Linked DNA regions of Homo sapiens: region 2 is linked to region 1. The links come from fine-mapping of genetic effects on gene expression. Tissue or cell type: monocytes after interferon gamma. Region 1 holds a variant in brackets; the other region holds the start of a gene. All regions are shown on one strand. Distances are from middle to middle.

Region 1 (8,099 bases):
ATGGTGAAACCCTGTCTATACTAAAAATACAAAAAATTTAGCTGGGCGTGGTGGCGCACACCTGTAATCCCAGCTACTCAGGAGCCTGAGGAGCAGAATCGCTTGAACCTGGTTCAAGGATTCAGCGGAGGTTGCAGTGAGACAGGATCGAGCCACTGCACTCCAGCCTGGGCGACAGAGTGAGACTCTGTCTCAAAAAAAAAAAAAAAAAAAGAAATTTGTACTGAATGAAGATTGAACATTACAAAAGAAACACATTAGGGCCCCTGTATCTACTGTAAAACAATGGGTATCTACTGTAAAAAAAAAAAGCACTTAAACTAGAGTAACAAAAGTTTCTAATTTTTATTAAATGAGATATTTATTGAATTTATTAAATAATATAAATGTATTAAAATATACTCATTTTTATTACATGCACTGAAATTTTTTTTTTTTTTCCTGAGACAGTCTCATTTTGTTGCCTAGGCTGGAGTGCATTGGTGTGATCTTGGCTCACTGCAACCTCCATCTCCCCGGTAGGTTCAGTGAGTTCTGCCTCAGCCTCCTGAGCAGCTGGGATTACAGGCATGCACCACGACCGACTAATTTTTTTGTATTTTTAGTAGAGACAGGGTTTTACCGTGTTGGCCAGGCGGCAAACTGGGATTACAGGCCTGTGCTACCAAGCCCAGCTAATTGTTGTATTTTTAGTAGAGACAGGGTTTCACCATGTTGGCCAGGCCGGTCTCAAACTCCTGAGCTCCACCTTACTGGCTAACGGTAAGTAAAATCTTTAACATGTGTTTGCTTTATATGAGTATAAAAGAATTGTATTTCCTTTGTTTTGGTCTAGGGCACTGTTTTTGAAACTGCTTAGTCATTGGTCCTAAAATCATTAGGTTCCAGTCAGCAATTTTTAAAATTACATGGGCTGGTCGCAGTGGTTCACGCCTGTAATCCCAGCACTTTGAGAGGCCAAGGTGGGCGGATCACGGGAGGCAGAGGCACCAGAATGGCTTGAGCCTGGGAATCGGAGGTTGCAGTTAGCTGAGATCTAGCCACTGCTCCCCAGCCTGGGAGACAGAGCAAGACTCTGTGTCGAGAGAAAAAAAAAAAAAAGAGAGAATCCAAAGAAGAATCTACAAGATTCTAGATCAGGAATATTGAAATGAATGTGCAAATGGAGGCAAAACTGGCCTCTTCTACAGTGGCCAAGGAAACATATTTTTGATTATAAGGCTGATTTCATCATATTTGGCCTGATTATGTAGTGCAGCAATAGTACTGATTCACCAGATAAGCCTACCTGAGTTTGCCTGCCTGGAAGTCTCCATAAGGAAACTTAGACTTTTTAAAGTCTGTTGTTTTGGCCAGGTGCCGTGGCTCACACCTGTAATCCCAGCATTTTGGGAGGCAAAGACGGGCTGATCACTTGAGGTCAGAAGTTCGAGACCAGCCTGGCCAACATGATGAAACCTCATCTCTACTAAAAACAAAAGTTAGCTGGGCGTGTTGGTGCGTGCCTGTAATCCTAGCTACTCAGGAAGCTGAGTCAGGATAATTAACCTAGGAGGCAGAAGTTGCAGTGAGCTGAGATCATGCCACTGTACTCCAGCCTGGGCAACAGAGTGGGACTCCATCTCAAAACAAAAATACAGGCCGGGTGTGGTGGCTCACGCCTGTAATCCCAGCACTTTGGGAAGCTGAGGCAGGCGGATCACGAAGTCAGGAGATAGAGACCATCCTGGCTAACATGGTGAAACCCCGTCTCTACTAACAAAATACAAAAAATTATCCAGGCCTGGTGGCAGGTGCCTGTAGTCTCAGCTACTCTGGAGGCTGAGGCCGGAGAATGGCGTGAACCCAGGAGACAGAGCTTGCAGAGAGCCGAGATCGCACCACTGCACTCCAGCCTGGGTGACAGAGCGAGACTCCATCTCAAAAAAACAAAACAAAACAAAAAATAAAAAAAAGAAAAAAGAAATTTAAAAATTCGTTGTTTGATATCCTGAGACACAGAAGGCAAGTCCAGGATGCTTTCTCCATCAGATTTTACCTGTAGTACTTAAAATTTGGGCAAATTCCTCTCTTCTTGAGGTTCCCCAAAATACCCCTAAGGTTCCTGAAACTTGTTAAATTGCTAATACTTTCAAAAACGAGGAAATCGGCCAGGCATGGTGGCTCACTCCTGTAATCCCAGCTCTTTGGGAGGCCGAGGGGGGTGGATCATGAGGTCAGGAGTTCGAGATTAGCCTGGACAACATGGTGAAACCCCATCTCTAGTAAAAAAAAAAAAAAAAATAACAAAAATTAGCCAGGCGTGGTAGCGCGCACCTGTAATCCCAGCTACTTGGGAGGCTGAGGCAGGAGAATCGCTTGAAACCAGAAGGCAGAAGTTGCAGTGAGCCGAGATCATGCCACTGCACTCCAGCCCAGGTGAAAGAGCGAAACTCTGTCTCAAAAATAAAAAAAAGTAAAAAAAATTTTTAAAAAGCCATGACTTTCCCAATAATACAAAGTAAGCTTGTTAATAATTTTTTTTTTTTTTTTGAGATGGAGTTTTGCTCTTGTCACCCAGGCTGGAGTGCAATGGTGGGATCTCTGCTCACTGCAACTTCCACCTCCCGGGTACAAGCGATTCTCCTGCCTCAGCCTCCCGAGTAGCTGGGATTACAGGCGCCCACCACGACGCCCAGCTAATTTTGTATTTTTAGTAGAGACGGGGTTTTGCCATGTTGGTCAGGCTGGTTTCGAACTCCTGACCTCAGGTGATCCGCCCATCTCAGCCTCCCAAAGTGCTGGGATTACAGGTGTGAGCCACCATGCCCGGCCGTTAATGATTTTCTGTGACATTAATGAGGAAACCTGTATGACATTAAAGAGTAAATGAGATGATGTAGATAAAATACTTCAGGTATTTTAGTGCCCAGCACAAAGCAAACCTCAGGTGTTGCTTAGGTTCGTCGCTTAGCTGCAGTCTTCTGTTTCCCAAGGTCATCTATTCTAGTGTTTGTCAAAGTCTAGTTCACAGTCTATCAGTATCAGGAGGATTTGTGAAAAATCTAGATTCTTGTTCCTCCCTCTTCCTTTGGCCTCCCTCTTCCCCTCCCCCGATCCTCTCCCCACCCCCCAAAATCTGGAGTCTTTTCTTCCCCCTCGAGATGGAGTCTCACTGTTGCCCAGGCTGGAGTACAGTGGCACGATCTTGGCTCACTGTGCAACCTCCACTTCCTGGGTTCAAGCAATTCTCCCTGCCTCAGCCTCCTGAGTAGCTGGGATTACAGGCGCCCGCCACCATGCCCAGGTAATTTTTGTATTTTTTGGAAGAGATGGGGTTTTGCCATGTTGGCCGGGCTTGTCTTGAACTCCTGACCTCAAGTGATCCACCCACCTCGGCCTCCCAAAGTGCTGGAATTAGAGGTATGTGCCACTGTGCCTGGCCTTGGATTCCTTTTTTTTTTTTTTTTTTTTGAGACAGTGTCGCTCTGTCGCCCAGGCTGGAGTGCAGTGGGGCAATCTCGGCTCACTGCAAGCTCCGCCTCCCAGGCTCACACCATTCTCCTGCCTCAGCCTCCCGAGTAGCTGGGACTACAGGCGGCCGCCACCGCGCCCAGCTAATTTTTTGTATTTTTAGTAGAGACGGGGTTTCACCGTGTTAGCCAGGATGGTCTCGATCTCCTGACCTCGTGATCCGCCTGCCTTGGCCTTCTAAAGTGCTGGGATTACAGGCGTGAGCCACCGCGCCAGGCTTTTTTTTTTTTGAGAGGGAGTTTTGCTCTTGTTGCCCAGGCTGGAGTGCAATGGCAGGATCTTGGCTCACTGCAACCTCCACCTCCCGGTTTCGAGTGACTCTTCTGCCTCAGCCTCCTGAATAGCTGGGATTACAGGCATGCACCAACATGACCATCTAATTTTTGTATTTTCAGTAGAGACGGGGTTTCTCCATTTTAGTCAGGCTGGTCTCAAACTCCCGACCTCAGGTGATCCGCCTGCCTCGGCCTCCCAAAGTGCTGGGATTAGAGGCGTGAACCACCGTGCCTGGCCTTAAATGTTTTTAAGTTATAAACATGTAAAATAAAATTCGCCAATGAATAACAAATATGACCAGAATAGAAAGGAAATAGTAGGAAAGACCAGTGGATTGAGGGCTAGAACGTAGTGTCTTGTCCAAGTAATATTTTGGTCTTTTTTGGAAACAAAAACTTGTTTAGAAAGATAGTCTTTACTGAATTTGTTAATTGGATTTTGCTTTCTTTTTTTTTCTTTTTTGAGGCAGAGTCTCCCTCTTTTGCCCAGGCTGGAGTGCAGTGGCATGATCTCGGCTCACTGCAACCTCCAAAGCAATTCTTCTGCCTCCACCTCCCAAGTAGCTGGGATTACAG[G/A]TGCTCACCACCACTCCTGATTAATCTTTTGTGTTTTAGTAGATGTTATCCAAGGTGGTCTCGATCTCCTGACGTTGTGATCCACCCACCTCAGCCTCCCAAAGTGCTGGGATTACAGGCGTGAGCCACCACACCCAGCTGCTCTCTGATATATGCGTGTATATTTATTCATTTGTTTTAATTTTTTGTTTCTTTTTTTTTTTTTGAGACGGAGTCTTGCTTTGTCTCCCAGGCTGGAGTACAGTGGTATGGTCTCGGCTCACTGCAACCTCTGCCCCCTGGGTTCAAGCGATTCTCCTGCCTCAGCCTCCCGAGTAGTTGGGATTACAGGCATGCGCCACCACACCCAGCTAATTTTTGTATTTTTAGTAGAGACGGGGTTTCACCATGTTTGCCAGGATGGTTTCGATCTCTTGACCTCGTGATCCGCCTGCCTTGGCCTGCCGAAGTGCTGGGATTACAGGCGTGAGCCACCGCGTCTGGCCTATTTTTTGTTTCTTGAGATGGGGTCATGTGATGTTGCCCAGATTGGCTTCAAACTCCTGGGCTCAAGCCATTTTCCTGCCACAACCTCCCAAGTGGCTGGGACTACACATACGCACCACCATGCCCAGCTCGAAGTACTACTTTTTGTAAATATAACATTTTGGAAATCCTCTTGAATTTTTTTTCCAACTTGGAAAAATTTCCAAATTCTTGTTTGAAAACATTGCCACCCGTGTAATTTTACCAAGGCAATAGGAACATTTCAGGAGCAACACCACCATCTTGTGGCCATATGGAGTATTGCTGCTGAGGATTTAAATTTGCGCTTCCCCCGTGACGGGTGGTCCTGCCTTATGTAATGGTCCTTTGGAAAGACTCCAGGTGGCCTCTGGTGGGGGCTTCCTGCTCTCGAGGGGGATACAGTAGCAGACATGATTGAACGCAGTGTGTGCTACAGAAAAGCAAGCGCCTTAAAGGCATTAGTTCAACAATGGAAGTAGTTGTGCATTTGAGTGGCAGGATTAGGGGTCATTTTAGTATTATAGTCTTAACATTCTGAAATAGTTTCTATATATTTTTAGAATATGATATTAGAACTTAGAAAATTTCACAACATATAATGCATGCCACCCCTTCTTTGATGAGTAAACCAAACCCAAGAACAAGAAGCTTCTGATGTTTAGTAGAGCACCTGTAATCCCAGCACTTTAGGAGGCAGGTAGGTAACTAGAGGCCAGGAGTTCGAGACCAGCCTGGCCAAAATGGTGAAACTCCATCTCTACTAAAAATACAAAACAAAATTTAGCCATGTGTGGTTTCAGGTGCCTATAATCCCAGCTACTCAGGAGGCTGAGGCCTGAGAATCGCTTGACCCAGGAGGCGGAGGTTGCAGTGAGCTAAGATTACGCCATTGCACTCCAGCCTGGGTGGCCGTGAGACTCTGTCTTAAAAAAAAAAAAAAACACTTTTCCACCAAGAGACCCTTGGAATCTGAGTCATTCTGACCATTGTTTGTTTGTTTGTTTTTGTTTTTTTGAGATGGAGTTTTGCTCTTGTTGCCCAGGCTGGAGTGCAATAGCGTGAGCTCCTGCCTCAGCCTCCCGAGTAGCTGGGATTGCAGGCATATGCCACCATGCCTGGCTATTTTTGTATTTTTAGTGGAGACGGGGTTTCTCCATGTTGGTCGGGCTGGTCTCAAACTCCCCACCTCAGGTGATCTGCCCACCTTGGCCTCCCGAAGTGCTAGGATTACAGGCGTGAGCCACAACGCCTGGCCTTTTTTTTTTTTTTTTTTTTTGAGACAGTCTCACTCTGTCGCCCAGGCTGGAGTGCAGTGGCGCGATCTCAGCTCACTGCAACCTCTGCCTCCCGGGTTCAAGCGATTCTTCTGCCTCAGCCTTCCGAGTAGCTGGGACTACAGGCGCCCGCCACCACGCCCAGTTAATTTTTTGTGTTTTTAGTAGAGACGGGGTTTCACTGTGTTAGCCCGGATGGTCTCGATCTGCTGACCCCGTGATCTGCCCGCCTCGGCCTCCCAAAGTGCTGGGATTACAGGCGTGAGCCACCATTCCCAGACAGGGATTGTTTTTCAATAACTTTCCTGAGATATAATTTACATAATACCATATGATTTCTCCATCTAAAGTCTACAATTCATTGCTTTTAATATATTCAGAAAGCTGTCCAAGTATCACCACCATCAATTTTAGGACTTTTTAAGTCTACAATTCATTGCTTTTAATATATTCAGAAAGCTGTCCAAGTATCACCACCATCAATTTTAGGACTTTTTTTTTTTTTGCTTCTAAAGCCAGAGGGAGGATGGTTGCTCCCTTTCTCTGGACAGGGAAGCGGGTGAGAAGAGCTTATAGAGGCATCCATCCGGTGCTTGGGAGGCTGAGGTGGGAGGATCGCTTGATCCCAGGAGTTCAAAACCAACCTGGAAATATAGCAAGACCCTGTCATTACCAAAATATTTTTTTTTAATTTAATTAAAAAACCAGGCTGGGCAACCTGGCAAAACCCCGTCTCTACAAAGAATACAGAAATTAGCCGGGCATGGTAGTGTGCGCCTGTGGTCCCAGCTACTCTGGAGGCTGAGGTGGGAAGATGGCTTGAGCCTGGGAGGCAGAGGCTGTAGTGATCACGCCACCACACTCCGGTTTAGGCTGTAGTGAAATCCTGCCACTAAAATAAAAAATAAAAGGTATTCATTCTGGCCGGGTGTGGTGGCTCACACCTGTAATCCCAGCACTTTGGGAGGCCAAGACAGGCAGATCATGAGGTCGGAAGTTCGAGACCATCCTGGCCAATATGGTGAAACCCCATCTCTACTAAAAAATACAAAAATTTGCTAGGTGTGGTGGCGCGCGCCTGTAGTCCCAGCTACTCAGGAGGCTGAGGCGGGAGAATCACTTGAACCCGGGAGGCAGAGGTTGCAATGAACTGAGATCGTGCCACTGCACTCCTGCCTGGGCAACTGGGTGACAGAGTTAAAAAAAAGAATCCATCTTAAATGGGTACATTTTGAATCAGATAAAAATCATATTCTGAATCATGGCGGGATAACTTTAGTTACTAGAAAATCTACCTTGTAGGGAGAAGCTTATTCACTGATAATGTTAGGGAAATGGGGTGTTTTGTGTATAGTTTGTTACAGATGGCTCGTGTGTGTGTGTGTGTGTGTGTGTAGGGTTAAATATACATGACGTAAAATTTACCATATTGGTCATTCATGTAAATTGCATCCTACAACCCTTGGTCTTTGTGAGCAGCTGCTCTCCCTGAGCCTCGATGTTGAAGTGTCCAGGTCAGCGGTTCACATTCATTGTTCATCCGTCACCACCGTCCATCTCCAGAACCTTTTCATCTTCCCCAACGGCTGCTCTGTGCCCATGAAACACTCCCTCCTCATCCTCCTGCCCCTGGCACCCCCATTCTACTTTCTGTCCCCATAAGTTTGACTGCCCTGGGGACCTCATACAAGTGGAATCAGACAGTGTTTGTCCCCTTGTGCCTGGCATGTCGTATGTTGCAGATTTTTTTATGGTGAAAAGATATACATATATTTAGAATTAGCCAGCCGGACTCGGTTTACATGATCTCCATTTTGTTGGCCACACCCAAAGCATCCTGATCAGGAGCCAGTGGAACATGTGCCTTCTTCTCTCCATCAGGCCCAATCAGGGTATTGACCTGGGCCACAACCACCTCACAGAGTTCTTCACAGCCTGTTTGAGCTGGTGCTTG
Region 2 (8,093 bases), 35 kb before region 1:
ACTGGTTGTTTACACTGTCATGCCCAATTTTGAGTGCCTTTTAAGCCTTTTTTGCATACTCAGAAACCAATCAGCATGCACTCCCCCATTCTGAGCCAATAAAAACCTCAGACTCAGCCACACTTGGGGTCTACACACCATGGCGGGGGGAACTACCCGACTTTGAGAGGGTCCCCTCTTCGCTGAGAGCTGTTTGTTAGCTCAATAAAACTCTTCACCCTGCTCACCCACTGGCTGTCAGCATAACCTCATTCTTCTTGGATGTGGGACAAGAACTCTGGAGGGTCTACCACTGGTAGGAAAAAGGCTGTAACACTGTAGCCCTCCACCCACCCCCAGAACCTGCCCAGGCAAGAGGAAATAGCAGTGGGCTGGGCCAGCCCTGAAGCTGAGGACCCAAGGGGGGCAGCGGGATTGAAAGAGCTGTAACATGACACAAATGGCGGAATGGGTGGGGTGTCTCCTGCACCGAGCCCAGGCCAAGGGAGGCCTGAACAGGGGTGCTGCTGGCCATGGAGGTCTCTGGCTGACTAAGGGGCACTGAAAAATCCTGTGTCATAAGTGGTTCTGAGACCAGAAAGTTTGAGAATTGCTGGACTAAGGAATATAAATTTTAAAACCAAGACTCACCAGGCACGGTGGCTCATGCCTGTAATCCCAACACTTTGGGAGGCCGAGATGGGTGGATCACAAGGTCAGGTGTTCAAGACCAGCCTGGACAACATAGTGAAACCCCGTCTCTGCTAAAAACACAAAAAAAATTAGCCGGGCTTAGTGGCGGGCACCTGTAATCCCAGCTACTTGGGAGGCTGAGGCAGGAGAATCACTTGAACCCAGGAGGTGGAGGTTGCAGTCAGCCGAGATCACACCACTGCACCCCAGCCTGGGCAACAAGAGTGAAACTCTGTTTCAAACAAAAACAAAAAGAAACAGAAAACAACCAAGACTCTTATCAGTCCACATGACAATACTCTGTGAATTCTCACAATGGCTGTAGGAGGTGGGTGCGTTATCACCCCCATTTATCAGGTGAAGACACTGAGGCACAGAGAGGGGATGTAATTGCTCATTCACACAGCTGGCAATTGACACAGCAGGGACTTGAACCCAAGCATCTAACCCCAAGCTTGTGCACTTCCTTGGGGACAATTTGGCTACATGTTTAAAAAGCTTTTAAAAATATTTGCCTCCTTTGACCTCTTTTAAGACTTTCAAGAAATCTTTGGCTGGGTGCGGTGGCTCACACCTGTAATCCCAGCACTTTGGGAGGCTGAGGCGGGTGGATCACGAGGTCAGGAGTTCAAGACCAGCCTGGCCAAGATGGTGAAACTCCGTCTCTACTAAAAATACAAAAAAATTAGCTGGGTGCGGTGGCAGGCGCCTGTAATCTCAGCTACTTGGGAGGCTGAGGCAGGAGAACCACTTGAACCCAGGAGGCGGAGGTTGCAGTGAGCTGAGATCGTGCTACTGCACTCCGGTCTTGCCAACAGAGTGAGACTCTGTCTCAAAAAAAAAAAATCTTTAATATCTCGACAGGCAAGGTGGCTCACATGTCTAATCCCAGCACTTTTGGAGGCCGAGGTGGGCAGATCACCGGAGGTAACTCCGGTTTGATACCAGCCTGGCCAACATGGTGAAATCCCATCTCTACAAAAATATAAAAATTAAGCATGATTACCGGTGCCTGTAATCTCAGCTACTTGGGAGGCTGAGGCGGGAAAATCGCTTGAACCCGGGAGGCGGAGGTTGCAATAAGCAGAGATCACGCCACTGCACTCCAGCCTGGGCGACAGAGCGAGACTCCATCTCAAAAAAAAAAAAAAAAAATCTTTGACATCAGAGATTCATATACAAAGATATTTATAACATCATCAAGTTAAAAACAACCAGTAGTCTGTGAATGATTAATAGATAACAGCAAATAAATGCACAAAGGTAGCTGGGCACGGTGGCTCACTCTTGTAATCCCAGCACTTTAGGAAGCCGAGGCGGGTGGATCACCTGAGGTCAGAAGTTCAATACCAGCCTGGCCAACATGGTGAAACCCGTCTCTACTAAAAGTACAAAAATTAGCCGGGCGTGGTGGCGGGCGCCCGTAATCCCGGCTACTCAGTAGGCTGAGGCATGAGAATTGCTTGAACCCGGGAGGCAGAGGTTGCAGCGAGCCGAGATCACGCCACTGCACTCCAGCCTGAGCGACAGAGCGCAATTCTCGTTTCTAAAAAAAAAAAAAAAGCACAAAGGCCTTGAATGACACCAGACAATGCCCGGGGAGATAGGATAGTGGGATGGGGGCAGCGGGAGCCTTGGTAGCGGAGTCCACGGTGGGATTCAGAGACCTGCAGAGCCAGGGCCGGGAGGGGCAGGGCAGAGGAAGGGCGTGCAGCGACGCTGGCATTCGGACGTGAGAAGGCGGAAGGTGCGGGAGGCCCCAGAGGATCTCGACCTGGACCCTGGAGCCCTGGGGCGGTGGCACATTCAGCGGCCGCTTTAGAGCGAGGGGGGCGGGGCGCGGAGCCAGGCTTAGGGGGACCAAGGTGGCCGGGGTAGTGGGGGCGACCCCGCGGGGCTGGGAGAGCCGCGGTGAGCCTAGGGGGCTGTGCGGGGGCCGCTCTGGACGCTGCAGCCAAGTGTCCCAGGAAAGCAGCGCCCAGGGCCCCACAGCTCCCTGTGCCCGGACCCAGCCCAGTCCCACTGCAGTGGGTGGCTGGAGGATGGCGAGTGTCCCGGGCACCCCTTGGGCCGGGTGAACGTGGTTGGGCACGGAGAGGGCGGGGCCCGTGGGCACGGGTGGGCCCAATGGGCCAGGGCTGGACCAATAACGAGAAAGGATGAATGGACAGGGGCTGAACTACAGAGAGAGGGCGGGACTATTGGGCGAGGGCTGGACCAATGGGCAGGGGCTAAACTAATAGACGAGGGCTGGACCAATGGCGCGGATGAGGCTGCTGCGTCGTCAAGGATGCAGAGCTTAAAGCAAGGCAGTGGCTTCCATGAGCCTAAACACCTTCCCTCCGCACGCTCGGTATCGCGACGGGGGAGAGCAAAACCTTTAAACAAATGCTCCAGTTTTCCCCGCAGAGAGCCGGAGTCAAATCCGTGAGGAAGCCCGGGGGTCGCAGTGAAGCCCAACCCACTGGTGCTGGGATAACCTCGCCCGCAACCCGGATCCAGGCCGCAGGTCCCCCGAGGCTCCGCCCCTGACGGCGACACTCAATCCCGGGTGTCCCCGCCCCCTTACTGAATTTTGGCCCCGCCTCCGCCCTCCGATTGGCCGGACGCCAGCTCTACGCCGCACGGGCAAGACGCGGAGGAGCGGCCCCAGCCAGAAGACAGGGCACCCGCGGCCTTGCTGCGCATGCTCGCGCTGTGACCCCGGCTTGAGGTAACAGCGCGAGCTGAGGCTGGGGCCCTTGGCGCGGAGGCTGAGGGACCCGCCGCGGCGCTGTCGCCGGAGAGGGAGGGCACCGCTGTCGTCGGTGAGGACGGGCCCTGGCGGGCGGGGAGGGTCCTGCGTCCTCGGCATGGACGAGTCCCCGGCCCGGCTCTCTCGGGGGTCCCGAGGGCTGCGGGTGCTGAGGAGGGGTCCGCGTCCTGGTGCTCAGGCCGCCTCCTGTGGGGTCTCCCGCGATTCCCTCTTTGCCTCTCGCCCCTCCTTCCCCACCCCCTCCAGTCCCTTGTCCAAAGCCTCAACACCCCCACACGAAGGAGGTCCGCACTCGCCCGCCGGTCCCTGGCCGTGTCCGCCGCGCCCAGCGCTGCCTTCCCGGCACCCCCCAACCCCCGCCGGCCTCGTCCCACGGTTGCAGCTCGGGAGGTCCCTGCAGGGACGGCAGCGAGTTGGAGGCGTGAGATACTGGGGCGGGGGAGACACTCGGGGCCTCAGGGTGTGGGTATTCTTGAGAGAGGAGAGAGCCGGGGAGCTGGGACCATTTGGGCGCAGCCCAGCCCGCGTTTGATGCCAATTGCATTGGGTAAAGGAGTGAAATAAAGATTCTGAGCCCTGGTGATTAGGGGAAGGAGCTGCCATGGCTGAAATTGCCATGGTGGGGAAGCTCCGCGCTGCACACCTTAGAGTAGCAGTTCTTGGCCTTCTTGGGGCAGGGGTCACTGCCGGTTTTTTAAATCTCCCTGTGAGGACGTGTACTGCACACCTTAGTGTCCCGTCATCCTGTCGGGGTCAATAACAGCCCCGCTGTGGACTGCGTGGAGCAGTAATTATTGGGGAGCAGCTGTCCATATCGTCTGGGAACTTTTGCGATGACTTCACCCTTGCCTGTCATCTATTAACAGCCCCTGATAAATTCACCACTATTTCCGTTACGCAGATGAAACCTGCTGGGAGGGTAAGGGATTTGTCCTCGCGGCTGAGGATGCCGGTGCTGGTGGACATTAGTGATGTTTCTCCCCCGTGCGTATGAAGATGATTCTGTGGGTCCACCATGAGGCACCAGGCAGGGGTCCTGTCGTCCAGAACATCGTCAGTGAGGGATTGAACCTTGTATTAGTTTCCTGTTGCTGTCCTAACAAATAAGGTGGCTTAAAGCAACACAGGCCGGGCGCGGTGGTTCACGCCTGTAATCCTAGCACTTTGGGAGGCCGAGGCAGGCAGATCACAAGGTCAGGAGATAGAGACCATTCTGACTAACATGGTGAAACCCCGTCTCTACTAAAAAAAAAAAAAAAAAAATACAAAAATTAGTCGGGGCCGGCGCGGTGGCTCACGCCTGTAATCCCAGCACTTTGGGAGGCCAAGGAGGGTGGATCACCTGAGGTCGGGAGTTCGAGACCAGCCTGACCAACATGGAGAAACCCCGTCTCAACTAAAAATACAAAATTAGCCGGGTGTGGTGGTGCACGCTTGTAATCCCAGCTACTTGGGAGGCTGAGACAGGAGAAAGGCTTGAACCCGGGAGGCAGAGGTTGCAGTGACCCAAGGTCGCGCCACTGCACTCCAGCCTGGCCGACAAGAGCGATACTCCGTCTAAAAAACAAAAACAAAAAAAAAACTCCGGGTGATTCTTAGGGATAGTGACATTGGGGAACTGCTGTTCATATGTTCATAGACTCAATTTACCTTTTTCTGAATATTTAACAACTTTATTGAGATAATTCACATACCGTGCAATTTACCCATTTAAAGTGTACATTTCGGCCGGGCGCGGTGGCTCACGCCTGTTATCCCAGCACTTTGGGAGGCCAAGGAGGGCGGATCACGAGGTCAGGAGATCGAGACCATCCTGGCTAACACGGTGAAACCCCGTCTCTACTAAAAATACAAAAAATTAGCCAGGCGTGGTGGCAGGCGCCTGTAGTCCCAGCTACTCCGGAGGCTGAGGCAGGAGAATGGCGTGAACCCGGGAGGCGGAGCTTGCAGTGAGATCACGCCACTGCACTCCAGCCTGGGCGACAGAGCGAGACTCCGTCTCAAAAAAACAAAACAAAACAAAAAAAAAAATATACAGTTCAGTGGCTTTAGTGTGATCACAAAGTTGTGCAACCCTCATGAAAATTCCTTTTAGGACATTTTCATCACCCCATAAAGCACATACCCACTAGTAGTCAATTCTCATTCTCCCCTTCCCCACCCCAATCCCGAGATAACCACAAATCTACGTTCTGTCTCCATAGATTTTCCTACTCTGTAGATTCTCTAGACTCTAAGTAATTTCATGTAAATGGAATCATATAATATGTGGTCTTTTGGGTCTGGCTTCTTTTACCGAGCATAATTTCTTCAAGGTTCATTCATGTTGTAGCATAGATTTTTTTTACTGCCAAATAATATTCCATTTTATACATGCACCACATTGTACTTATTCATTCATCCATTGATGGATATTTGGGCTGTTTTGAATATCCATCGAAACGTTTTGGCTTTCATGAATAATGCAACTGTAACATTCATGTACACATTTTTATGTGGACATGTGTTTTCCTTTCTTCCAGGCATATAGCTAGTAGTGGAATTGCTGGGTCATAGGGTAACTCTACATTTAACCTTTTGAGGAACTGCCAGGCTGGTTTCCAAAAATGGCTGCACCATTTTACATTCCCCTCAGCAGTGTATGAGGGTTCCAGTTTCTCCTCATCCTCACCAGCACTTGCTATTATCTGTTTTTTGTTTGTTTTATTATGTCCATCCTGGTGGTGTGAAGTGATATCTCATTGTGGTTTTGATTTGCATTTCCCTGGTGACTAATGATGTTGAGCATCTTCTCATATATTAGCCATTTGTATATCTTCTTTAGAGAAAAGCCTGTTTGGAGCCTTTGCCCATTATTATTATTATTGTTATTATTTTTTTTTTTTAGACGGAGTACCACTTTGATGCCCAGGCTGCAGTGCAGTGTAGTGCAGTGGCGCCACCTCGGCTCACTGAAATCTCCACCTCCCGGGTTCAAGCAATTCTCATGCTGCGCAGCCTCCTGAGTAGCTGGGATTACAGGCATGTGCCACCATGCCACCAATCCAAAAAAGAAAATAATTTTTGTATTTTTAGTAGAGACAGGGTTTCACTATGTTGTCTAGGCTGATCTCGAACTCCTGACCTCAGGTGATCCTCCTGCCTCAGCCTCCCTAAGTGCTGGGATTACAGGCATGAGCCACCACGCCCTGCCCCTTTGTCCTTTTTTTTTTTTTTTTTTTTTTTGAGGCGGATTTTGCTCTTGTTGTCCCGGCTGGAGTGCACTGGTGCAATCTCAGCTTACCGCAACCTCCGCCTCCTGGGTTCAAGCAATTCTCCTGTCTCAGCCTCCTGAGTAGCTGGGATTACAGGCATGTGCCACCAAGCTTGGCTAATTTTGTATTTTTAGTAGAGACAGGGTTTCTCCATGTTGGTCAGGCTGGTCTCGAACTCCCGACCTCAGATGATCCACCTGCCTCGGCCTCCCAAAGTGCTGGGATTACAGGTGTGAGCCACCATGCCCAGCCGCCCATTTTTAAATTGTTTGTTTGTTTGCTTGTTTATTACTGAGTTGTAATAGTTCTTTATAAATTCCAGATACAAGTCCCTTATCAGATATATGATTTGCAAACATTTTTTCCCATTCTATGGGTTATCTCTTAACTTTCAAAAGTTTTATGGCTAAAACACAAAACTCTTAAACTTAGTTGAAGTCCAGTTTATTTCTTCATTGGTTGTTTGTGCCTTTCATTATATTGAAGAAAGCTTTGCCTAATCTAAGGTTATGAGAATTTAGTTTTTCTTTTAAAAAAAAGTTTTATTACTGTAGCTCTTGTAATAAACTATAATTTTTTGTTTTTTTGTTGTTTTGAGACAGGATCTCACTCTGTTACCCAAGCTGGAGTGCAGTGGTGCAATCTCGGCTCACTGCAACCTCCGCCCCACTGGCTTAAGCAATCCTTCCACCTCAGCTTCCCAAGTAGCTGGGACCACGGGTGCACACCACCATGCCCGGCTTTCTTTTTTTTTTTTTTTTTTTGTATTTTTAGTAGAGATGAGGTCTCGCCATGTTGCCCAGGCTAGACCTGAACTCCCGAGCTGAAGAGATCTGCCCACCTCAGCCTCCCAAAGTGCTAGGTTTATAGGCATGAGCCACCATGCCTAGCCATATAATTTATTTAGAGTTAATTTTTGTATATGCTGTGAGGAAAGCATACAACTTCATTCTTTTGTATTGGATATTCAGTGGTCCTAGCATTTAATGTTTGTTTTTATTATTATTATTATTATTTTTTGAGACAGAGTCTTGCTCTGTCACCCAGGCTGAGGTACAGCAGCACAATCACAGCTTACTGCAGCCTTGACCTCCCAGGCTCAAGCAACGCTCCCACCTCAGCCTCCCAAGTTGCTGGAACTACATATGTGCCCCACCACCCTGGTTAATAATATTTTTTTTAGAGATGAGATCTCACTATGTTGCCTAGGCTGGTCTGGAACTCCTGGGTTCAAGCGATCCTCCTACATCACCCTCCCAAAGTACTGGAATTACAAGCATGAGCCACCACGCCTGGCCCAACATTTGTCGTTAAGACTATTTTCCCTCCACAGAACTGTCTTGCCACCTTTGCTGAAAATCAGTTCACCATATATATAAGAGTGTATTTCTGGACTCTCAGTTCTATTCTGT

Direction of the effects. Positions count from the first base shown, and alleles are read on the strand shown. Sizes are in standard deviations (SD) of each study's normalised expression.
As copies of G replace A in region 1, the expression in monocytes after interferon gamma of the gene that starts at base 3,328 in region 2 goes down (moderate effect, 0.47 SD a copy in Fairfax 2014).

The links. PIP is the estimated chance that this variant, and not a neighbour inherited with it, causes the effect.
Region 2: FLYWCH2 starts here. The variant in region 1 is fine-mapped to the expression of FLYWCH2 in monocytes after interferon gamma (Fairfax 2014, PIP 0.93).

What each region holds. Positions count from the first base shown.
Region 1 is chr16:2,914,715-2,922,813 of GRCh38, forward strand. All of the region lies in intron 2 of FLYWCH1 (FLYWCH-type zinc finger 1), which reads left to right. It also overlaps the pseudogene RPL23AP86. Among named protein-coding and RNA genes, the nearest start is that of FLYWCH1, 6.8 kb to the left of the region's middle. The variant G/A (reference allele first, on the strand shown) is at 4,365.
Region 2 is chr16:2,879,888-2,887,980 of GRCh38, forward strand. FLYWCH2 (FLYWCH family member 2) reads left to right here and starts at 3,328. Exons shown (of 4, transcript NM_138439.3): 1 at 3,328-3,479. RefSeq lists an enhancer at 2,245-2,745 and silencers at 2,474-2,943, 3,444-3,613, 3,704-3,763.